Regions from separate parts of the Homo sapiens genome. Here regions 2, 3, 4 and 5 are each linked to region 1. The links come from fine-mapping of genetic effects on gene expression. A gene starts in region 1. Each other region holds a variant in brackets. All regions are shown on one strand. Distances are from middle to middle. Region 1 holds the start of EGLN3 (egl-9 family hypoxia inducible factor 3). Region 2 holds the start of LOC102724945 (a long non-coding RNA gene). Region 3 overlaps EGLN3-AS1 (EGLN3 antisense RNA 1). Region 4 overlaps LOC102724945 (a long non-coding RNA gene). Region 5 has its middle 170 kb from the start of EGLN3-AS1.

Evidence for each region.
Region 2: its variant is fine-mapped to the expression of EGLN3 in unexposed skin (GTEx, PIP above 0.99). The same link has a PIP of 0.9 or more in sun-exposed skin.
Region 3: its variant is fine-mapped to the expression of EGLN3 in whole blood (INTERVAL, PIP 0.95).
Region 4: its variant is fine-mapped to the expression of EGLN3 in whole blood (INTERVAL, PIP 0.93).
Region 5: its variant is fine-mapped to the expression of EGLN3 in whole blood (TOPMed, PIP above 0.99).

Annotation. Positions count from the first base shown.
Region 1 is chr14:33,948,638-33,953,744 of GRCh38, forward strand. It overlaps EGLN3 (egl-9 family hypoxia inducible factor 3), which reads right to left and starts at 2,437. Exons shown (of 5, transcript NM_022073.4): 1 at 1,759-2,437. The coding sequence starts at 2,115. RefSeq lists an enhancer at 2,205-2,374 and a silencer at 2,495-2,574.
Region 2 is chr14:34,200,820-34,205,926 of GRCh38, forward strand. It overlaps LOC102724945 (a long non-coding RNA gene), which reads right to left and starts at 2,909. Exons shown (of 9, transcript XR_001750942.2): 1 at 2,840-2,909. The variant T/C (reference allele first, on the strand shown) is at 2,745.
Region 3 is chr14:34,052,302-34,057,408 of GRCh38, forward strand. All of the region lies in intron 2 of EGLN3-AS1 (EGLN3 antisense RNA 1), which reads left to right. The region is part of intron 5 of LOC102724945 (a long non-coding RNA gene); the gene reads right to left. Among named protein-coding and RNA genes, the nearest start is that of EGLN3-AS1, 15 kb to the left of the region's middle. RefSeq lists an enhancer at 2,983-3,032. The variant A/G (reference allele first, on the strand shown) is at 2,851.
Region 4 is chr14:34,015,551-34,020,657 of GRCh38, forward strand. All of the region lies in intron 5 of LOC102724945 (a long non-coding RNA gene), which reads right to left. Among named protein-coding and RNA genes, the nearest start is that of EGLN3-AS1, 22 kb to the right of the region's middle. The variant G/T (reference allele first, on the strand shown) is at 2,821.
Region 5 is chr14:34,210,624-34,215,730 of GRCh38, forward strand. No RefSeq gene overlaps it. Among named protein-coding and RNA genes, the nearest start is that of EGLN3-AS1, 170 kb to the left of the region's middle. The variant C/T (reference allele first, on the strand shown) is at 2,166.

The sequences.
Region 1 (5,107 bases):
TTGAGTTAAATTCTAGTCTGAAACCCTATCCCTATCCATTAAGTCAAAGCTAAATAAAAATATTTAACTTTCAATGTTAGTGGCCTCTTTCCATACCAATTAATCCTGACCTCCCTCAGAGCAAATTCTGCTCCTAGAATGATGAAGAAAAACTCCTAACACCTAAATTTACAAGAAACATTTAAAAACCCAATAAGAAGCCGTCTGCTCTTCCAGGTAGAAACTACCAGCATCTCAGCAACACTGAGGCTGACCCTTCCCCTCCCCGACACACCTCCACCACAGAAGACAGCAAGGTCATTTAATGCAAAAATCAAACTAGTCAAAGACGAGTGACTAATCCACCACCAACATGATGGAAGAAGAATAAAGAAACACTTTAGCATCAATCTCCTACAGAGTTCAGCTCACGCGGAATTTTTTTCCCCAAAGTAAAATTTAGAAAGCAGTATCTTCTAAGATTTACTTTACTTGGGTGCATTAATAACGATGCTTTCAGATATTCTATTCATGGCCTCTTGGCTTGGAAGTTGTACGGCAAACTGTGACTCCCCACTGCACTCATCCACCTCCACCCCTTCACTCCCACACGTTTCCAATCCTCACCACTTAGCCTTTATTCAGAGTGTTCCTCTCAGCGTATTAGAGAAATGAGAGAACAATGGTCTGTTCTGAGACAGGATCAGTCTTGAGACTGATTTGAGAAATACTATATTTATTGTCAAAGAGTGGTACATAGGTGAGTGTTCATCTTCCCTCTCATGCCGGTATACTCTGCTTCGCTGTTTCAGTAAAAGTTTTCCGTAGTTCTGAACGTCCCTTGACCACACCATAAGACAAGCGCAAGTCACTCAGAATTGCCACTGGAAAACTGGCTCAACTATCATTTGAGGAAAGACTGAGAAAGCCTATCCCAAAGTAATGGACATGCACCAACATCGCGGTACCTACATGTTCCCGTTTTTCTGCCAATCTACCTGTGTTTCCAAGATAAATTACCACCCAGGGAGTCACTTCCTGCTATGTGAACAAAAACCCGGTTTCTTTCTGGAGGTGCTTGACTACTCTCTCGTGAGCACTTAACTGGTTGTTTTGAGTGGACTTTGCCATCAATTCATAGTTAGGAAAAGGAAGGTGGTGGTGCAGGGCTCAGCATCAGGAGAGAATTTTCAGTCAAGAAGATGGTCTAACAATGTGCTGGGTCCCAGGGGGCAGAAGCAGCATTCAGAAGTGGAGTTTTACCCTTTCACACCTGCCCAACTCCACAAACCAACTGCCACATGGCAAAATCACAACTGCCTCCAGAATTCTGAGTGCTTTTGTAGAAATCTCTTCTGACCACAATGAAGGGCAGTATTAGGTGGCTTTAAAGTAGGCATTTAAGATCATGAGGACACGTGTGTCTCAGATGATACACAGTGTTTCCAATACCCTTTCCCTCCTTTGGATCTTTGAGAACCTCGTCTTAAAATCGGACCACAGCCACAGCTTGTCTGGCTTTTGTCACCCACAAGAGCCAATATTTCAAAGTCAACAGAAGGTCATCATCATGGTTCACCTGAGCCCCTTAACGTTGACTTTCGCTCAGAGGAGCTGGGGCGAGGGGTGGGGGGAAGCAGCGAGTAGAGACAAACCAGGCTGACTTCTTGGTTAAAAAACAAAGTTCGCTTACGGCCCTGGGAAGTCGACATACAACGGACTCCGAGTGCCTCCCGTCCCCGCGGGAGCAGCTGCGGCAGGGCGCCGAGCGCGTCCTACCTTAGACCTCTCCTTGACGTAGTATTTGCCCAGCCGGCTCCCGCAGTAGAGGACCAGCCTGTCGATGAGGGACAGGAGGAAGCTGATGGCCTCGCAGCCCTCCTCGTTGCCCCCGATCCACGTGATCTGGTCGCCCCGCAGGTGTCGCTTGGAGACGCCGGCGCGCGGCCCCGCCAGCTGGCCGTCCCGCAGGGCCCCGGTGCAGTGCAGCTGCTTGACGCGCTCCAGGACGCAGTCGCCCACCACCTCGCCCAGGAAGTTGTCCAGGTAGCAGAAGCCCACCTCGTGCAGACAGGGCACGATGTACTCCAGGGCAATTTTCTCCAGGTCCAGCCTCATGATGTGTCCCAGGGGCATCTCGCCCGCAGAATCGAGGTCCGGGATCCCCAGCGTGCAACCAGAGAGGGAACGATCTACACGAGCGCGAAGCCGAGGCGCGGGGAGCGTGGCCCGGGGTTCAGAAACCTGCGGCTGCCACGGTACCCGAGCCGCTGCAGCGTCGGGGACAAGGGAAAGTTTCTCGCAACTCTCGGGAGAAGGGATCTGCCTTCGGGAACCAGCGGGAGTGGTGCGGAGCTCCACGACCCGTTTCCGGACTGGCCCGGCGAGCAGTGCGGCGCAAGGAGTCGGAGGGCGCCTTTTGGGGATGGGAAGCCACCACTGCCGCGACTGCGGCCAGACTCCGGGAGACGCTGAGGTCCGGCCCTTAAGCCGGCCGACTCCGCGCGTCACGGGCTCCGCCCCGGGACCGCCTCCGGGACCGCCCTTTCCCCCGCCCCGCTGCCAGTCACCCCCGCCTGCTCTGCCCCTCCGCGAAGGATCCCAGAGAGCCCGGCGCCAACCTTAGTTGTTTGTGACCAGGGGAGCGGCTGGAAAGCAGACTGAATTTTTAGAATGCGCTGGATTTGCATATTGTTTTGCATAAAATCACATAACAAACTTGAAAACCTGGATCCCACACTGAAAATGTAAATAGAATTAACTGCCACATTCTGGGTTGGTCACCTCATAGACTTTTGAGCAAAATAATAACCCCAAAAACGAATATATTTATTAAGCAGTGGTCTTGTTCTACCTTTACCGGGTGTCTTTCCTTATTTACCCCATTCCTCTGCTGTTTGACCCAGTTCAAGCCACTGAGAGATTAGGAGGTATCTAGTTTTAACTAAAATTAATGCATTAACGAATATTTCCCTCAGCCCCTACTGTGTGCAAGGCACTATGTGCTTGAGGAGCTGGGGATGAGCACAATGAAGAAATGCTGAGTCATATCTGATTGAACTCTGCAAATGGTGTATTTTGCTTTGCTTGATGTTTTCCTCTACTTACCTTTCAAGCTTCCTATTAAAATATGATGTTCCGAAATTCTACCTTCCAAATTAATCACATGCTTCTGTAACAGTCAGAGGTATGTCCCCCAAAAGATACACTGTATTCTAGGTCTCTCACTTTTCCCACAAGCAGCTGTACTTTCACAAGAGGGACAGACACCACTGAGAAGACTTTGGTTATCTACAGATAAGCTGATTTGCTTTATGGAGTTTTGATTCCCTTTCCTACTGAACACCAGCGATCAGAATCAGGAAAAAATTCATAAATTGCATGCAAAGCTATTTGTACTTCTTTAAAAAAAAAAAAAAAGGAACTGTATTTTTTTTATTTATTTATTCTGAGACGGAGTTTTGCTCTTGTTGCCTGGGCTGGAGTGCAGTGGTGTGATCTCTGCTCACCACAACCTCCGCATCCCAGGTTCAAGCAATTCTCCTGCCTCAGGCTCCCAAGTAGCTGGGATTACAGGCGCCCGCCACCATGCCTGGCTAATTTTGTATTTTTAGTAGAGGTGAGGTTTCTCCACATTGGTCAGACTGGTCTCGAACTCCCGACCTCAGGTGATCCGCCCGCCTCGCCCTCCCAAAGTGCTCGGATTACAGGCGTGAGCCACCGTGCCCGGCCTATTTGCACCTTTTTTACTTCATATGAGTGCACACTTGGGTTCTTCATTTAAGTTGAAGAAAAGAATGTACAGGTTTTTCGGGTATTGTTTATTGTGGAAGCAAATTTCTACAGCTTTTTCACTTTTCTTCTTCCTCCAGCAGCCCTCTCCTCTCTGCCTCTGAGGGGAGAAAGGGAATGACATCCAGGACAAGAACAAAGAATAGAAGAGGAAAGGTGCTGCTACAAGTTGGAAAGAAGCAGACAGAGGCACGTGGTTGAGTAAGAACCTGGGGGATGGTGAAGGAGAGCAGTCAATGGTGGAGTGCTTAAGAAACTTTGATGAAACTTCTAGTTATATTGAGAGAGGTTCTCTGCCAAGTCAGTGATTAGTTGGCACCTTTGGTATTACCTTTGAGCAGGAGGTACCCCTCCTTGGGGTAAAGGCCATCACTGCTCAAAGAGCTCTTGTCTAAATTCCCAAGGCAGCTCCATGATGAGAGGAGACCATCATCCTTGGAACCCCAGTGTTTAGCACATAGTGAATGGCTAATAAATAGTTACTGGGAACTCAATGTCTGACCCTGAGCCATAGCAGCCTCCACTTGGGATTCAGTATGTCTGGGCTTATCTGGAAGGATCTATTTGCAAAAGGGGCTGGGGAGCCTCCCCAAAGAGAAGTCACTGGAAAAGAGTCAAGCAAATTAGCCTGACCCAGCACAAAAGCTTAGAGGCCAGTGGAGGGAGAACTTAGGAGTTCTACAGGGCATTTGTCTCTCAGCTTTGTCTATCTGAGCAGTGGACATTTGAGTGGTGGGAGCCAGAGACATAAAGTGAAAACTGGAGGACTGTTAAATTGCAGCAAAGGGCCAGGCACAGTGGCTCACACCTGTAATCCCAGCACTTTGGGAGGCCGAGGTGGGCAGATCACCTGAGGTCAGGAGTTTGAGACCAGCCTGGCCAACGTGGTGAAACCCCGCCTCAACTAAAAATACAAAAATTAGCCACACATGGTGGCAGGCATCTGTAATCCCAGCTACTCGGGAGGCTGAGGCAAGAGAATCACTTGAACCCAGCAGGTGGAGGTTGCAGTGAGCTGAGATTATGCCACTGCACTCTTGCCTGGGTGACAAAAGTGAAATTTAGCCTTAAAAAAAAAAAATTGCAGCAAGGAGTGAAATGGAGTGCAGTACCAAAAAGGAGGAAAGCCCTCCTCTCTACTTCTGCTTGAACCCTGCACAGAAGGAACTGCTTTGCCTCCTGCAGTGATCTCCTCCAGGGGCACTATGGATAATGGGGTGACCAGGAGAAACCTGGTCTAAGACAGCCTGAATGTAGACCCTGGTTGGCATTGGGTCGTGCATTTTGCAGCTTTGGGGACTGTGTAAATCTCAGAAGTAGATATCCCTGAAGAGGG
Region 2 (5,107 bases), 250 kb after region 1:
ATCTGTCTGACAAGGATGAGACACTAGGCCGCCAAGAAGATCAGTCTAAACAAAACAATGACCACCCATAGCTACAGGTCAGTAAGACCCAGTGAGCTACAGTACACAAAAATCTGTGCCTTCCCTGGAGGTTTGTCCCACAGAAAATAAAAAAAGGATCCAACAAAGGGGATTCAAAGGACTATGCAGGAGAGACTATAGAGTAGACATCATTTATTTATCCTGGCTTTTGTTAGGGTAAATAAAAGCAGAAAACTTCCCTGGTTGGCAAATCTTTCGCACACTCCAGAAATTGCATTGTATATGTCCAGTGACATATTCTCTCTCTAGTGAGGAGATAGAGGAAAGGGACATTTGGAGAGAAGAGTGCCAAATAGGTCTTAGTGAAGTTTCAATCTGTGAGATGAGATTGTGTTGTTCATTCTGTCCTACAGCGGAGACAAACATCTGGCAGAAAATATCTATTAGTGCTTTCTTTGAACTGACCTCTTGAGTGAACAAGGTAGATTGCAAAAGAGTGTTTCTACTATGATTTCATTTTATGTAAAATTATAGATTTGAACACAAATATAAACAAAGATGCGTAGAAAGATGACTGAAAGAATGTTGCAAAAGTATGAAGAGTTATCTCTAGATAGTAACTGTTCAGGGGATTTCACGATTTTCAGCATTGTTTCATTTTCTACAAGGAAGAGGTATTATCTTCATAAATAGACAAAACTAAATAACTTTCTTTAGACTAATCAGAAACCAGCAATATTCAGATATTTTATTATAAAAGGCAAAGGAGAGAATAAACATTTATCAGCTGCCTTCCTTGCACTCAGGACTATGTTTGGCAACAAGCCTCGTGAATTATTATTTTTCCTATTTTACAGATAAGAAACAAAAGTGCAGAGAATTTGCCTAACTTGACCAAGACCTCCACCAGTGTTTTCAACCTTTCAGCAAAGGAGAAATCCCAGAGCCAAGATGCTCTTTCACTCAGCTTGAGAAAGAATCCCAGGGAAAGAGGGAGTTTGGGATGGAAGGCACAAGTGCAGGCCCATCTCTCCAAGTCCCCACTGAGAATCCCTCTGACTACTGGCAGAGCCACATATTGTGAGTCCATTAATAGAGAAAATATTGCCCCCTTAGCTGAGGTGTGGCCAAAACAAATGAGAGCAAGATGCTTTGTGATCTTTGAGTAGCAGGACTAGCTGTGAGGAGTCCCAGTGTCACCCATGACATGTGTTCTGGGGAACATCCACAGTGAAGGCAGCAGAGCCATTATTTGAGGTCTAGTTGAGGGTCACCCCACATCAAAGCACAGTGCTAGCAATCAGGATTACCATGGTAACCACTTGAAATAGCTAAGCTTCTCTGGGCCTCAGTTTCCTCAACTGGAAAGCAAAAGGGTTTGCCTAGAAAATCTTTAAAGTCCCTTCCAGTTCTAGGAATCTATCACTCATGATCTAATCCCAGCCACCACTTCTGTCAGAGTCATTAGACAATTGCCCTAGCACGTTCAACTGGCCCACCAGACATTGCTTCAGGGCCTAAAATTACGTGTGGTAATGCAGAGATGGAAAATCTCTTTTGTAATCTGCGTAGGATTTTGCTACCTACTTAGCTTAGTTTCACAACCCACAATTATCTTTGAAAAACAGACAAGTCAATTTACTCTCTCATCTATGTTCCAGAGGGGGGCCAATCCCACACTCCTCCTTCTTACAGAAAAATCCCCAAATCTCAGATAGGAGTCAGGATAACTCAGGAGATTTGGCAGTATGAGCTTGGAATCTTTCCCACTGGGTCCCAAACACTTTATCTCTTAAGAGCTGCTTTTGTAAGGCAGGCAAGAAAGGCTGAGTTAATACTGAGAATTTATAAATGGTTTTGCAAATTAAACAGAATTCTGTCTCTGAAAGGCAACCAGGAGAGTATTTCTGTTCTCCTGTTATTTGCTCACAAGCAAAAATTCGAAATGCCGATAAAAGCCCCTTAGTGCTTGCAGGTAGCCACTTTCTTATCAAAACAAGACAGAAGAGTAAATTGAACCATCCAGAAAATCACATATCCACCCCTTAATAATATTAATTGAGAAAATCTCAGACAGTGGCAGTGTGGACAATTATAAACATGAGATGCAGATGGCCGAATCACAATAATCAAACTCAATTGCTATTTGGAAAGAAAGAGCCAGGAATGAATTTAAATATGTGGTTCAGTGGTCAATTTCCAATATTTTCTCCTGTGCAATCCATATCCTGCTTTCAAAGGTAGGTGGGCAAAGATACTAAGTCTTCCAGATGGAGGTGGGAGGCCTTCTCTGAGTTGGAAATTCTGCATAAACAGCATCAAGCCACTATCTAGCCTCCCTGAGCATCTCAGTTCACCATGGAGGCACCACGAACTAGAAAAACAGTGACATCCCTCTCTTCTCACCCTTTGCAGGACAACTTGTGGTCCAGAGAAATAGGTTAGAAAACTTCCTCTTCGTGGGCTCTGGAGAATCATTTGTGGTATTCACTCCAGGAAATCAATTTCTGAAGTCTGTTTCATAGACTTTAATGAGTTCCTTATTTAAAAAACAACATTTGGCAATCTCTATTCAAATATATTTCATGCGTTTCTATTGAGTCATTTATTTGACAAACCATGTGCTATCTGCTTCCTTTTTGAAATGCTATATTTTAATTGGGTCAAGGATATGTGTGCTATATTTTTTAGAGAATTTTTTTCATTTCCAGAGAAGAGTTATA[T/C]CTAAGGGTACATCTTAATCCAACATAGCAAGAGTCTGTTTACCTTCCCCGCCTTAGCATGTTCCACCTTTTAAAGAGGCTAATGAGTGACTCACGTTTTTGGCTGACTTTTCCTTGAATATCAGGTCTTCTCTGAGTGAGCAACTCATCTTCTGCACAGATACTGCATACCCACCCACCCATCCCAGCTTAAATACTGTTTGTCTTGCTTCCACTGATAGGAAAAATTATTCAGATTCTATCTTCCCACTCACTTTAGTTACGAGAATGGGTGAGGTTAAAGAATTTGGTGGCACCAACTGTGAGATTCACCTTTATTGTCTATCCTTTTGAACTGTCTTCCCACTCACTTCTCTAGCTACAAGAACGGGTGAGTTTAAAGAATTTGGTGGCACCAACTGTGAGATTCTCCCTTATTGTCTATACTTTTGAACATCTCACCATTAAGTACCAAAAGATCAGCCAGGCACAATGGCTCATGCCTGTAATCCTAGCACTTTGGGAGGCCAAGGCGGGCCGATCACGAGGTCAGGAGTTCGAGACCAGCCTGGCCAATGTGGCGAAACCCCATCTCTACTAAAAACACAAAAATTAGCTGGGTGTGGTGGCACGAGACTGTAGTCCAGCTACTCGGGAGGCTGAGGCAGGAGAACCACTTGAACCCAGGAGGCAGAGGTTGCAGTGAGCCGAGACAGCGCCATTGCACTCCAGCCTGGGCAACAAAGCAAGACTCCATCTCAAAAAAAAAAAAAAAAAAAAGCACTAAAAGACCCTGACTGCACACTTACAATTTACTTTTTGCAACCATGAATGCTTTCAAATCTGATTCTAAATTCCAAAATCATGCAAGGAACTGAACATACCCGGCAGACAGCAGGAAAAGTTAAAGTTAGAGAACTAGTTACTGTGCTACATGTTTACTGTAAACTGTTTCCTACTTCCTACTTTTGCCTATAATGCTCATCTTCCCCTTCACCCAACTAATCCCCAGTTCTCTCATCCTTAAGGTATTACCTGTTCCAGTAAGTTTCCTCTGTCCCTAACACTCCCCACCTTGGTTGTCTATCATCCTCCATAGCTGTTTACATCTCCGTCATTGCATTTAACGTCACTGTGTTATAATTATCACTTATGGGTCTGTGTCTTCAACAAAGACAGAAACTAAGTCTCTTTCATTTTTGATTGCCCATGCTTGGTCCAGTCTGGCGGATAGAAAGCATTTACAGTGAGAATGAATGGGCATCAACTGCTCTCTGACTCATCTAAGAAAACAAAAACAATTTTAGATTCAAGGCAAAAATGCATTAAACTAGTGAGAAAAATATCTGAAAGTCCTAAGCAGAAAATTGTTTTAAGTAGTACATATGGCTGCTTGTTCTCCCGCGTGCTGGTGCACTTGTTTCACTCTGACTTAAGAGTGGATATTTATATTTGTAGATGACTCCACAAACCCTATCACTTTGGGCTATCACTACAGGTATTTCCATCTCCACTTACACTCACTCCACAACCTTCTCCATCACCTCAAATACATCTCCCCGGCCACCTCCGCCACTATCTTACTTCTACCACCTCAACCTCCTCTACTATCTCAGCCACCTTCCCACCCACCTCCACTACCTCTTTCACCTTCTTAGCCACGACATTCACTACCTCTATTACCTCCATCGCCCCAACCAACTCTTCTACCTCCATCGCCCCAACCAACTCTTCTCCCTCCATCGCCCCAACCAACTCTTCTACCTCCATCGCCCCAACCAACTCTTCTACCTCCATCGCCCCAACCAACTCTTCTACCTCCATCGCCCCAACCAACTCTTCTACCTCCATCGCCCCAACCAACTCTTCTACCTCCATCGCCCCAACCAACTCTTCTACCTCCATCGCCCCAACCAACTCTTCTACCTCCATCGCCCCAACCAACTCTTCTACCTCCATCGCCCCAACCAACTCTTCTACCTCCATCGCCCCAACCAACTCTTCTACCTCCATCGCCCCAACCAACTCTTCTACCTCCATCGCCCCAACCAACTCTTCTACCTCCATCGCCCCAACCAACTCTTCTACCTCCATCGCCCCAACCAACTCTTCTCCCTCCATCGCCCCAACCAACTCTTCTACCTCCATCGCCCCAACCAACTCTTCTCCCTCCATCGCCCCAACCAACTCTTCTCCCTCCATCGCCCCAACCAACTCTTCTCCCTCCATCGCCCCAACCAACTCTTCTCCCTCCATCGCCCCAACCAACTCTTCTCCCTCCACCTTGGATTCACCACCAATTCCTCCACCACCTTCACCACCTTCTTCACCATCTCCATCACCTTCACCCAACCATAACCTCCACCACCAGCTCTACTACTTCC
Region 3 (5,107 bases), 100 kb after region 1:
TGCTTTAAATACTTTGGCTTTGCAGTTTATGTTCTTTATTGAGTACCAACTTTTAGAAAGATTCCTCAAAAATCTATTTGGCCATAAATTTTGCTCCCCACTCTTCTGTCTTTGATACCACATTTATTCCATCAGCAGACAAAAGAGAACTAAGACTATAAGAGCTACCTCTTATAATTGTTAATATTTTCATTGTCCTTTCCCTAATTAATTTTAACTATTTTAACCATTTAGCCACTTGGATGGAGGAACCCTGGTAGTCTACGGAATAGTCACGTCAAAGACTGATTGCCCCCCACCACCCCCAGCCAACACACACACACTTTAAACCCTTCAGTGATTTCTCACTGTTCTTAGGAAAAACAGCCAAATCTTCAGCAAGGTCTCCAATGTACAAGGTTCTGAGTGGCCTGGCTGTGCCTGCCCCTCGGCCTTTCCCCGCAGCGTCATGAGTCATCTTGCTCTGGGCACTGCAACCACAGGGCCTGTTTGTGGATTCCAAACACTCCTGGTCCATCCTGCTGCAGGGCATTTGCATGTGCAGTTCCTGCTTCCTAGAAAGCCTTTTCTTCTTCATCCTTTAGACTCAACTCAATCATTACTTCCTTAGACAAGCCTTCACTGGCCCCGGGGCCCCGACTCCACCCAGCATCATATCTTCTCATAGCATCAGCACCTCTCCTTCAGGCCCCTCTTCAGCTGTTCCTTCATCCCAGGTGTAATTTTACTTGTGTAGGTGGAAATATGTTATTAATGTATTTCTCCTCCACTATGCTTCATGAGTACAAAGACCATTTCTGATTTTTCTCACCATTGTATATCCAGAGCTGGGCACAGTGCTTGAAACTAAAAAAAAAACAAAAAATTACTCACTCAACAACCATATAATGAGCACCTTCTGTGTGCCTGGCCCTGTTCTAAGCCCTGGGAATACAACAGTGAAAAGCCAAAGTCCCTGCCTTCCTGGAGCTTATATTCTAGTTTTGGATAAGAGACAATAAACAAATAAGCAAGATGACTGCAAGGAAGGGTAAGTGTTATGGAGAAAGTACTTCTGAAGGGAACAGGATGTGAGCACTGGGGACAGGGTAGGATAGTATCTCAGATAATGGTCAGGAAAGGCCTTTACAGGGATCTGGCATATGAGCCGAGTCCTGGGTACTCTGAAGGGGGGACTGAATTTTATTGCAAAAGTTAGGACAGTCCCAGGCAAATCAGGACAGTTGATCACCTTGTTGATCATAGTATGCTGCCTGCTTCAGCCACTCACCCAGAAAATGATTCTCTCACACCTTCTAAATTTCATTTCCAGAAACACTCCTTCATGAGAATTAACACAGCTTAGAACACAGTAAATGCTTTGTAATGATGAGGAGACTTCCCAGGAATCCACACCCACTAACTTTAGGAGCAGTCCTGCCTTTGGGATTCCCAGTCAAAACCAGGCCCTCTCCTGCAACCCTCCCACTCTCAGAGTCCCATACTTGGATTTCCATGTGGATGGAATCCACCCAGCAGGAAAAGCTCATTTCCTCCCTCCATCTGGCTCACTCTCCCAGCCTGGAATCTTCCCCCACAATATCCCTTGGCAGACTCCTCTTCTGCACTCCCTCCTGGCTGGCTCAACTTCCGGCCAGTTCCACCCAATAATAAACTACCTGTAATGAACCACAGAGCAGCAGATCCCTCCAGTGGTCCTCCTGCTCCTTGGGGCACACACTTGAGCAGGCCCTGCTTCAACAATTGGCAGCTGCCCGCTTGGCGCAAGCACTCACACAAATTCTTCCTTACTCTCATTAGTCTAAACTAGGTCTTTATTTAATGGATTTAGAAACAGTTCACTGGCTAACCTGATTTTTTGTTTCATCTCCAGTCAAATTCCCAAGCCACTGTTGAAAGCTTCCCTTTTTATCTTCGCCCCTTTCCCAGCCCCAACTCTCCCCTCACCAACTGTATGAGCAACATTAGCACCTACGTCATTGAGATATTAGAAGGATTTAACCGAATTAATATACACAAAGCACCTAGAACAGTCACCAGCACACAGTAGCCCTTCACGTGAATGTATTCAATGAATGAAATGCTAGCCCTTATTATTGTCCCTGAGATCTGAGAGTCATTTGTGCCTTGATAGTAAGTAGCTGCCTGCTATGATTTTATTTGAAGAGACAAATTATCCTGTTGCCCAAATGCTCCCCCAGCAAACTTAAAAGTCCTGCAACCAGCATCTGTATTTAAAAAGAGCACGTGAGGTCAGGCACGGTGGCTCAAGCCTGATTTCCTAGCACTTTGGGAGGCTGAGGCTGGTGGATTACTTGAGGCCAAGAGTTCAAGACCAGTCTGGGCAACATGGTGAAACCCCATCTCTACTAAAAATACATAAATTAGCCAGGCTTGGTGGTGCATGCCTGTAATCCCAGCTACTTGGGAGGCTGAGGCACAAGAATTACTCGAACTGAGATTGTGCCACTGCACTCCAGTCTGGGTGACAGAGCAAGATTCTGTCTCAAAAAAAAAAAAAAAAAAAAGAAAGAAAGAAAGAAAAAGAAAAGAAAAGAAAAAAAAAAAAGCACATGAGAAGGATGGGAAACATTACAACAATTTCCCATTTTTCTCCCCAGAAGAGTTTATTAGATTAAATAGAAGTAGAATACTAAGGACTATAGCTGGATGGGGAGGACAGAGTTTGAGGCTTGTTTAGAAAAGAAGGTCAGAAGCTCTCACTGTAAGGAGGGGAGGCATCATGAGAGCATTGGACTCTTGACGGGGTGAAGGGAGTAAAGCTGAGGGCATGGAGAAGTGGAAGGGGTGTGGAGAGGAGCGATTACAAAGACAAAATTCAGCTAAGTT[A/G]ATGGAGCCAGGTCCTTTCCTAAAGCCACATCTTCCCTCCCCAACTCTGCCCCAATCAAGACTAGACTACATACTGCAGGCATCCTACTCAAGAGAAAAGAGCCTGGATTTTCAAGCCACCATAAACTCAGAGCAACTCCCAGTCCTACCATTTACCAGTTGACTAAGTTCATTGACCCTTCTGAACCATGGATTCCTCTTCTATAAAAACAAAACAGAAACAAAAACTCTCAAAACAAAGTTGTGAGGATTCAGTAAGATAAGGCAGGTGATAGGCCAGCTAAGTGCCCAGCTTCTAGGAGGTGCTCAGATCGCTTAGTTTTTCAGCCAGCTTTCTGACCTCACACTAAGTCCACAGCCTCTTGCGCTTTTTCCTATCTAGTTTTTACATGTAATTTATTACATTCAATTCAATTCAACAGAGATTTTATAGAATGCCAAGCACTAAACTCTGGGGATACCAGAGGATCAGGTCCCCTTGCTCCCCATGGCCCCCCAAAACTTGTAGCCTATATAGGAGACTAAAGATTAAATATGCAGTTACAAATGAACAATGAACATTCCAATAAGGGAAATACAGGAGCTGTCAGAACACAGCTCTCACATTACACAATAGATGTAAAATGAGCTCTATGTCATTTATGCTAAATGTCAAGACACAGGAATTAAGCACTTCCACAATAAAAATCTAGGTGGATACCTCAGTAGAGCAGATTTTTATGTTGGTGGTAGTTTCCAAAGTTAGCACATAACTGAAAGCAGTCACTTGAAAAAAAATCCCTTAAATTATCCATAAAATAGTGTATACATGGTTTTCGTGTACAAGTATGCATTGCTGTGTGTATGTAAATACGTAATAATCTACACAACAGATAATTGACAAAGAATAAATATGCAAAATATAAGTTTACAGATTTTACTACACAGAAGAAACCAAAAGTGAAATTAGAAAAAGTTTGCAAAATCAATGTTCTAAAAACTTCCAGTGGAAATGCATGTTTTGTTTTGATAACAAATTCTAAAGGGCCAGGACACAGCTGCAAGGCCAAGCACATTCACACTCTTCAACCACCCTGGGCTTTTTAAAAGTGTGAATAAAGGCAGTAGCTTCAGAAAATCATTCTTTGGTTCTCTTAGTTGTTAGACTTCTGTAGGAGCCTGTCAATCTTACAGAGTATTAATAGAAAGAAAATTACCACCCCACCCCACCCCCCCCCCCCGCAAAAAAAACCTTATTGCCTTTTATTTTTGGACAGGTTATGGAATCACAAAATCTCAAGGTTGTAAGGGAACCGAAAGAGCACTGGTCCAACCTGTCATCATATGTTTCAATCCCTCCCAAGGGATCAAACAGTCTCTACTTAGATATTTCCAGTAGCTAGAAACTACCCCTTCCATCTTAGAACACCTCCAGCAGTAATTTAAATGCACAATTGCTTCAAAAATTTAATACATCAAAATTATGTGTTGCAGGAAGATCTTCCTGGCAGGGATTCACTTTAAAAGTATTATGAAGAATTTACTCTGCAATATTCTTAGTGTATAAAAGGGTCATACAGACTAATAAGAAAATCGCTAAGATCTCAATAGATAAGAAAAAATGTAAATCATCACATTTGTATTTAAAAGTTCAGTCAGCTGGGCGCAGTGGCTCACTCCTGTAATCTCAGCACTTTGGGAGGCCGAGGTGGGCGGATCACCTGAGGTCGCGAGTTTGAGACCAGCCTGACCAACATGGAGAAACCCCATCTCTACTGAAAATACAAAATTAGCTGAGTGTGGTGGTGTGTGCCTGTAATCCCAGCTATTTGGGAGGCTGAGGCAGGAGAATCACTTGAACCCAGGGGGCAGAGATTGTGGTGAGCCGAGATTGTACCATCGCACTCCAGCCTGGGCAACGAGAGTAGAACTCTGTCTCAAAAAAGAAAAGGTCAGTCTACCTAATTTAATAGGCAAAAAATTATCCCACATTTTAATCCATTAAATAACAAAGGTCAAGACACATTGCACCAAAAAAGCAGTGAGATATAAACTGATGGTAGAACTGTAGATTGCTACAACTTTTATGTATTTCATTTTGGCAATATTCATTTGTCAAAGAATAAGCCTAGAGGTTTGTTGTCGTTGTTGTTGTTTCATCACAGCTGAGTCTACTAATTTACCAGGCAAGGGAACACAAACCAAAACAGAAATTTGCAATGTATCCCTGTTAGGGAAATGTCAGGGGTTGCTTTTTAAGTGCTGGAGAGAAGTGCCT
Region 4 (5,107 bases), 67 kb after region 1:
AGCAGATCATTCAGTCTTTGGAATTCCTTTTATTTATCTTTGAGTTCAAAATTCTGACCTATGTTTGTCTCAATTTAGATTACTGCTAAAATGGAGAAAAAATATGGCACCCATGAAGCCGCTGAATTAAAAGAAAGCATAAACTAACCTTTAAAAATAGTTTGAATTAAGCTTCTTTGGAAAGGGAGATTATAAGATTGGCTAATGCTCAAAAATGGTAATTTTCCTTTGTTTAACTTAAAGTAATAATTTATCTCAAAATAACATCACAGTTACTTGTAAAGATGATGGTATCTGGCTTTTCATTTGGAAGTGTTTTCCAGAAAGCAACTCAGGAATGTACAAAGTTAAACCTATATACACACCAGGTGTATGCGGTCAGGGGTACGCTTTGTTTACCTGTAACTGATTTTAACTTCTTTTAAAGTTAAAATTGAATTGCTCTTCTTTTAAAGAAAAATGTGCATCACTTTCATTTCAGTGGAGTTTTTTGTTTAACTCAAATAAAAAAGATAACAAAGAACTAATAGCCATATTCAATTGTTTAAAATCTTACAAATTAATGAAAAGATAAACAAGAAAAAAATTATGTCAAAGGACATAAATAATTTTGAAATGGCCAATAATCATTTGAAACAACATTAAACTTCATTAAGAATCTAAGGAGTACAAATTATAACAAGTATAAGATGTCATTTTTCACTAGAGCAATTGGAAAGAAAAATTTTAAATACTTAATGTTGGGGAATGTATATAAAAATAAGTGCAAGGATATACACTGCTAGTATAAATGTAGTGTGAGTGCGTGTGTGTATATATACATCTACATATATACCTTCTAAAAGGTATTGATTCAAATTTATTATATATACACATATATTATATAAGTATTATTTATATGAACATATACAAATATATGTATATGTATTTATCTAGATACATAATAAATATTATAAATATATTTATATTTATTTATATTTAGTGGACAATAATCATTTGAAACAATGTTTAGCTTCATTAAGAATCTACGGAAGAATGTTCCTGAAGGTTCTTCATGGAATGAAGAAATGGAATGGACCATGAAGAAATGGTCTTCATGGAATTCCCAGCATACCTCATACCAGAGAGAGAGAATATAACATCCGTTGTTCCCCATTACTATTCTCATTACATTAAGGATGAACAACAACCAGGAAGCGCAAAACTCTGGCAGCCATAAGCATATCTGAATATGTGATTTCTAATATTTATTTCCTATGTGATACACACACACTCACACACACACAGACACAGAGTCATGTGTGTTTTAAAGCCTTAGATGGGTGCATATTCTTTGATTCAATGACTAGATATCTAGAAATTTATTCAGAAATAATCACAGATATGCTCAAAGATATAGCTACAAGGATGCTCATTAGACAGCTATCAAAAACATTATCAAAAACTTGGAGACAGCCTAGATATCCAAAAATAGAGGGTTGCTTAAGTATGTTATAAAACATTTATACAGCAGAACACTACGCGGAGGCAGAGGAATATTTAATGTTTATAATACATTAAATGAAAAGGGAGCCAGGCATAGTGGCATGCACCTGTAATCTCAGCACTTTGGGAGGCTGAGGTGGGAGGGTAGCATAAGCCCAGGAGTTCAAGGTTGCAGTGAGCCACAATTGTGCCACTGCACTCTAGCCTGGGTGACAGAGTGAGATCATGTCTCAAAAAAAGAAAGAAAGAGAGAGAGAGAGAAAGAAAGAAAGAAAGAAAGAAGAAAGAGAAAGAAAGAAAGAAAGAAAGAAAGAAAGAAAGAAAGAAAGAAAGAAAGAAAGAAAGAAAGGAAGAAAGAAAAGGAAAGGGAGATTTCAACACTATTGCATCACTTCAGTTTTGCATTTACACAGTGAAAATTATAGTAAAACAAATCATGCTATTGGTGGTTTATCTCTGGGAACTGGGATTATTGGTGATTTTGATTTTATTCCCATTGTTTACCTGTCTTTTCTATAATTTCATAAAAAAACAGCTTTGTTGAGATGGCATTCACATATCATACAACTATTAATTTTCTTTTTTTTTTTTTTTGACATGGAGTCTTGCTCTATCGCCCAGGCTGGAGTGCAGTGGCGCAATCTCAGCTCACTGCAACCTCCACCTCCCAGGTTCTAGCAGTTCTCCTGCCTCAGCCTCCCAAGTAGCTGAGATTACAGGCGTGCACCACCATGCCTGGCTAATTGTTTTGTATTTTTAGTAGAGATCGGCTTTCACCATGTTGGCCAGGCTGGTTTCAAACTCTTGAACTCAAGTGATCTGCCTACCTCGGCCTCCCAAAGTGCTGGGATTACAGGTGTGAGACACCACACCCGGCTATTACTTTTATAATTAAGAAAAAAAGCAATAAAATTATTCTTACTGATTGAGGTAAACCTCTTTTGGGCAAATAATTAATCAACATGTCATCTCAATTATTTTAATATTGGGTTCATAGCTAGCATTTATCCAGCACTTTAAATTTTGCAATGCACCTTTACTTTTACACAAGGTTCTTCTAGCCAAGTAGACCTCATTGCACATAAACAACTAATGACCTACACCTGTTAAGTTGCAAGCAATTAAGTCTTGTTGGGGGTCTTTGCTCCCTTTTAATGGAAATTATACTGTGAATAAGACGAGAGAAATATATGTCATGTCTGTCTTTCTGACACACTGTGGGTTTTCAAGGGATTCTCAGCATGACTCCTACCAGAGAGAGAGAGAGAAAGAGAATATAACATCCGTTGTTCTCCGTTACTATTCTCATTACATTAAAGATGAACAACCACGCAG[G/T]AAATGCAAAACTCTGGCAGCCACAAGCATATCTGAATATGTGATTTCTAATATTCATTTCATTTTCCATTAACACACAAAACTACCTTATTAAACGTGAATAAAACCTGCATCCAGAGACACTTAAAATGTTGGCCAATTCCTCACTGAAAGGACCTTAATGATGGTGGGAAGCTTGAAGAGGGGCTTGGAGAGAGGTTTGCAGGCTTCGGGTTGCCAGGGACACTTACCTTCTTGGCTTCAGCACATCACACAGTCTCAGACGGCAGAAAGAGCCAACGCGTTGGAAAACAAGGGTCAGTACAAGGGTTAAATGAAAGTGAAATCATGCTGACCCAGAAATGCAAATCGGTGTGCCTTAGTTCTCTGTAGAACTTGTGTTGCCTGAACACTCTATTCTTTCTTCAGATTATCTAGTGTCCCAAGAGAGGCTTCAGCGATTTCGAGAACAGTGATGCAATGTGGAGAGACGCGGCAGGCAGCGGCAGAATCTAATTGCATTTGAGAAGCATCTCCACAATTTGTAGTGGCCTTCTCACAGGGAAAAGCGGGGGGCCGGTTTTGAAGTTGATTTCCTTTTCTTTATATTGCTTTTACTATCCTTCTCAGCTCAGATTCAAAGCTCAAAATGGGAGGTGATTTTTAAACTGTCTTTTAACCCATCATAAAAGGAAGAACATGCGCACTTAGAGATTTATAATTCTCATCTGCATTGTGTTCTCTAAAGTTGCAACGTGTACAGGAAGCTCCTGGTTGCTGATAGAAAGCTGCTTGAAATATAAATTTCAGGTACACAATGTGGTTCTCATCACGAACGGAATTAGAAGGGAGAGAAGAAGGGAAAATGGAGGGAGAGAATAGGGGCGAGGGGACAGAAGAGAGGTGATAAATCAGAGATGAGTGCCGATTTTAAAGAAAAAACAGAAGCTGAGAACTTATTAGAGGGACTCAGGATAGAAAATTGAACAAGGTAAGCTAAGAATAGATGGCAAAGGGATTATGAATGTGGATCTAGAGCCAAATGGCTTGAATCTGAACCATCACTTAATTTCTAGACAACTTTAAGCAACCTACTTACCCTATTTGCCTGTGCAAACCAGGCTGGGCGTGGTGTGAGCCACCGTGCCCAGCCTGGTTTGCCTTCGTTTTAAAAAATAATTATGAGAAGTCAAGTTCTGAGACTTGCATACATGGTACTTGCTGTTTTTCACTCCTTGCACAGGGAAATCTACATTTGATGGTCCAGTTTACAAACTTTTAGGATAAGAATGCAATACAGATTTTGCAAATAATTCTTAAAGACCTCCTTTACGTAATGAGCTATGGAATACAAAGATAAGTGAGACATTGTCCTTGTTCTTAAGGAGTTCGAGGTCTAGAAGGAATGACAGATCTGTATTAAAGTCCCAGGAGGCGGTATATAATAGCTGGTCAGGAGGAAAACTTTCAAGTCTGGAAAGAGCAGTTCCTAAGTTTCAAATTGGAAACTGAAACATGAGTACTGCTTTTAAACGCAAGGCCAGCCCCATGTTTTGCAGGTAAAGGATCCTACTTAAGTTTGGGGCTGGAAAACCAGCTGAATAGATACTGTCTCAACTCCATGACAGAAGATAAATGTACTATCAGGGTCCAGATATAATAAACATAGGCAGACAAAAATCATTATTAAATTGAACTGGGTTTTTTTTTTTTTTTTCCCAGGGGGAGGGGTGTGCCTGAAGTGTTAAGCCTAAAAAACAGTATTTCCCAAGGAAAAAAGATGTCCTATTATTAGCATCAAATTAGAGAACTATTTGTACAGCCAGGAAAGTCATGGATATTGTGTCACATGGTTGACATCCATGGGTTTGTCTCATAAAAGTAACGTGAAAAAAATCCACAGAATCCCACCTGGCACTAGGAAGGCTATGAGCTTTCAGCATCAGCTCTCCAAGGAACTGCAAACTCAAGGAGCCAGCTTACCTCACGTGTTCCTGCACTTTGTAAAATTTCTTCAGAAATTTAAATTAAAACCGGTTCTTTAGTAATAATCCTTGTTTTCATCTTTGTTGCTTTCATCTTTGCAACAATTTAAACATGTTGTTCATTTTCTGAGTGTCTGCCATGAGACTGGGAAATTAGCTATATTGAACATAAAGCAAAGCTAATTCTAGGAATTTCCAAAGACAAAGACAATTCCTAGAACGTCTTTCTATCAGGGAAACTTGAGGGTAAGTTCCAGAGAGTTCACTTTCCAGATGGCACTGTCCTCCAATAACTGAAATGATTAAGGCCTGAATATTTGCTG
Region 5 (5,107 bases), 260 kb after region 1:
ACAGGCCTCATACTGAAAACACATTTTTTGAAATCGTCTTTATATATAAAACCTTAGGAAATTTTTAGATATAATTTTTAGTTTACCACATTCACATTGTTTATTTAGTTAGCTTTCATTTTTGTCATTAATTTCTAGTTTTATCACACCATATTCAAAGAACATAGTCTAGATGAAGCTGAGCCTTTGAATTAAACTTCCTCTTTTACTTATACCTACACAGGCCTGAAAATCACATATTTTATGTATTTGTTTGATCTCTTTTCAGATATATTTTATATATTTGCTTTTTCATTTTCCAAAAAGGTTTGTTTTTATTCTAACCATAAGTATTGATCTATTTTTTTCTCTTAAGTCAGTTGTTGCTTTTGATATTTTGAGATCTGTTAGCAGCACATATGTTCATGATGATGGTGTCATATCTCCAACATGTAATGTTTCTTGTCCCTTATTAGGTTTTTCACCTTAAATTCTATCTGCTCTGATATTAAGTGCTACCTATGATTTCTTTGCTTCAGACATAACTGGTGTATTTTTTTCCATTCCTTTATTTTCAATCGGTCTATATCCTTTTGTATTTAAAATTTATGGTTCTTATAAATAACATCTGTCCAGATCATGGGTCTAAAAACTCTTTCTGTCTGTTGGTTGTTCACATTAACTCACTTGTATCTACTATAATTACTGTTACTTTGACACTTTGCTATCTTATTTAGTGCTATTTGCCATGTTTTCCTTTTATTTCTTTCTTTTCTCTTTCTTGGTTTTCTTTAAATAGTCTCCATTTTATTCTGCTGATTTAAATGTCATAATTCTATAGTTATTGTTGTGGTGGTTGCCCTAACTCTTTAACCTATACTTATATTATGCTCATTTTTCCTAACGATGTCTAACATTTATCAATATCTACATCCCTCCCCTGAACAAGAATCTAAGTGTCTTCTCGGCAGCTTCTGATCAGTCCCCACACCACTTCCCAAATGTCTAAGGAGTTAGATGTTTGAACGTGACTGTAAAATTGGTTGTTACTTATTCCTCACACACATTTCAAGTTTGTAATTTCCACAAAACACACTCATAAGCAAAAGAACTCTAGCCTATCTAGTTACCTACCTAATCTTTCCTCTCCTGCCTGGAAACATGCATTTTCCATAGTCAAATCAAGTGTTTCATTTTCCTAAATCCAACTTTAGCCCAGATACCTTGCAGCCCGTGGGATCCCCAAAGGACATCCCCAAGGGAGACGTATACAAAGGAAAGCAAAGTAGTAATTTCTGAACACTCTGTGGTTTCCCTTTTCTTAAGTGACTCAGACCTAATTAGGCCAAGCCTAAAGGAGTTTCTTTGCTCTTCTCTGACTCTTCCCTCTGCCTAAGTTAATCCTTAATCTTACCAGAGTGGAAAGGAAAGCCCCAAATAAGGGGCAAGTACAACCTGGGCAGAGAAAGACAGATGGCAATGGAGTCTGCCTAGTGAAAAGCAGGCACGGGCTAGGACAGCTGTCCTGGGCCCTTAGAGAGGACCCCAGAGAGGGTCAGCTCACCACTCCTAGTACCTGGAGAAATAAACAAAGTGAAGTGAAGCCCACCCCAATATACTCCCCGCATACAACCCAAATGGCATCCTGGGTCTGACTTCCTATCACAAAGGCTGAAACAGGTAAAGGTGTAGAATAGTGACACCTGTGTTTCCTATGCCGTGCAGCTCAAAAACTGTATATTGAACACCAACGATCAATGGAAAAATACAGATGAATGAGACACCATCCCTACCCTGTGAGTGCTCGCAGACAGTTGGAAAAGGCAGATGTATTCAAGGCTGTGAGATACTATGTCATAACGAAAAATTTCTCAAAACTTAGCAATTCCCAAGAAAGTCACTGGGACTCATCATCCTAGGGGTACGAGACCTACTAGAGAGTCAAGAGAGGAAAAGTACTTTCTCTTCTGGACCAATTCCCTAGCATACAAATCACTAAAAAGGCTTCCCTTCCCCCAAATTGTCTCTTTTGCTTTTTACTAATGCTGGAAATTTCTTTCAGTGGAGACAAAGCCAGTCTTTCTGCAATTAGAGAAAACAAGCTTAAAATAGAAGTGCTGTGGGATGGTTAGCATGAGTGGAAATTAGGTCAAACCCATGTGTGAATGACTAATATCAGTTGATCA[C/T]CAGTTTTGATAGGCGATAGAGGTTAGTGATTCATAAACCCTGGGAGCTGGGAGCCCCAAGAGTCCCACTGAAAGAAACTGGAACACCAAAGAACACAGGCATGTGTTACAATGTTGTTCAGGCTTTGCTCTGTTGATTTCTATTTATTGGAAAAACAACTAGAACCTGAAGCAATATTGCCTGTTTCCTCAAGTCATCTCAGAAGGGACCCTGTTTTGGAATCCTAGTCCCCATCTTCATCCCCTGATATCTAGGACTGTGAATTCATATTCTGAATCCCACAAATCATAAACACCTCTCACCTAGCTCTTCATTCCCAGATGTCTGTCCAGAACTGTCCACATTCCAGTACTTCATCAGCAGATTAACTTGATCATATTATCTACTGATTCACAGTGTGGCCTTAAAATTCCTCCAAGGAGTCTCCAGGCCCTTCGAGGACAATGAGCATCACTTGCGTCTCCCATGCCTGCAATTATCTGATCATTCCTCCATCACAGTAACTTCATCCACAACTGTTCTTTCAGCTCCCCGCATTTGTCCCTTTCCCCAAACAATTAGATCTCCGCGTGGATAGACAGTTGAGATGGAGGGCTTTTTTGTGGGGAGGGGGCGAATCTGATGCCATTTATATCCCTTCAGAGCTCCAGCCTGGTTTAATAATCCCCAAGCACCACTTTGCGTGCGGCAAGGTATAAATATATGCTAATAGGAGGTCTGGCTCCTTGTCACAACACATTGCAGGCTGCATTCGTGCAAGATAGAATAAAAAGATTAGATGCAATCTTGAAGTCAATCAGAAAGCAGGAGGAAACCAAAAAAACGGAGCTCAGATTGTCAACAAGGAGAGGCAGAAAAATGACTTGAATCGAATTGCAGTTTATCTCGTTAAGCGTTAAAGGAAACCAATTTCCTTCAGAAATTGGAAGGCAATTTAAACATTTCTACAGTTTTACTAAAGTTTGAAAAATTCCAGTAAAAGAATAAGATTTTCTTTATCTCTGCATATCTGACATTTTCCCTGTACTCTCAGGGACTAGAAGGCCCTAGATAAGAGGATATTTAAGGAAAAGTGAGCAGTTATCAACAAGTAAGGAAACGAATCTATTAAAGAAATACTCACGTGATTTCTTCAGCCCCTTCAGGTTCCATGCCAAAAGACCCAAGGAAACTAGAACTGTGTAGGAAAATACCAGCATACAAAATCTGGTCTAGCCCTGGATAAATCACCAGGCTGGGTTAATTGACAAACACAGAAGTCACATTCAACCTATAAAGGCCAAATACATTGTACCAATCTCAAAGCCAAGCTACCTTCCATTGGGGTCGATGCCATCACAAGCTAAAGGCACTGTTCACAATGAACTTAAGTCTTTTTTGATAAGCCCCCTTCCCCATTCCTAGAATCATAAACATTGACAGTGACCCCTATTTTGCAAACCGTATAATGGTTACTCCTCCTTCCCATGCTGAAATGTGTAATTCTCCCCAACCATTGTATCTCATAGAAATCACTAACTAAACCTCCATCATCAGATTTAAAACCAAGCTTTCTCCAATCCCATAGTCCATCCGGAAATTATTGTTAGCCAACAAAAGCAGACCTTTTTTTTTTTTCCTGCATTATCCCAGACAATGAATTCTCAATATTTCCAGAAACATGAGGGCTTAAAGGATACATATACTGTACTAAGAATAGCCATTACCTCAGGAAGAGGATCAATCAGAGTACCTGAAAGGGGCTCCCATATTTTACTCAGTCTATACATGTATTGTTTTTATCTTCTACAGTGAAAAAGCAAGTATTGCTCTGTAATTTTAGAAAATGCATTTTAAGATGTTCTGAGATGAATAAGCTAAGATTATTTTTTTCAGATTCATGCCCCTAAAAAACTGCCAACTCTAACCTCTTGGAGGGCCAGGTGTGGTGACTCACACCTGTAATCCCAGCACTTTGGCAGGCTGAGGCAGGTGGATCGCTTGGAGCTCAGGAGTTCAAGACCAGCCTGGCCAAAATGGTGAAACCCCATCTCTACAAAAAAAAAAAAAATACAAAAATTAGCCAAGTGGGGTGGTGTGCACCTGTGGTCCCAGCTACTCGGGAGGCTGAGGCAGGAGAATCGCTTGAGCCAAGGAGGTGGAGGTTGCAATGAGCCAAGATTGCGCCACTGCACTCCAGCCTGGATGACAGAGTGAGACCTTGTCTCAGAAAGAAAGAAAGAGAGAAATAAAGACAGACAGAAAGGCAGGCAGGCAGGCGGGCAGGCGGGCGGGCGGGCAGAAAGGAAGAAAGGAAGAAAGGAAGAAATGTTAATGTTTGGTATGAGCTGGACATTGCTCAGAGTTTAACTTGCCAAAATTGTGGCTTTTGTCTTCATTCATTGCTTTCCCTGCACAGTCATTCAGTCAACAAACATTTACAGAGCACTTACTACCTCATAGACTGAAAAAGGCATCTGATGTGAAGCTAAAATTTTCCTTAAAAAAGAAATATGATAATTAATGATGTGGCCAGTTGTTCTCCGTTATAATTAAAGACAAAATCTCAGACAGATTCATCAGAGATAACATTCAGGAACAAAAAAAAAGTGCCTTTCCTGGTTTCCCACTTCTACTGACAACTTTTTTCTTTCAATAACTTGTTATGTGCCAGGAGCAAACAATATGAAATCCATTCCTAATGAGCAATAATTATAGCTTTAAGAAGCTGTACAATCAGTGTTCAGTGATTTCATTATTAGATAGCACCATAAATTATGCTAATGCTGATAACAGTTCTGGATGAGAGAGGTCCAGATCCAGGAGATTGCACTGAAATTATTTACATCCTCTATTTCTGAAACAATAGATCCAGCAATTTGAAAATCAGATGATCCGATTTATTCTGGCGGGACACACATGTAACAAGTTGCATCAACCATAAAATTAAATAGGCTTTCTT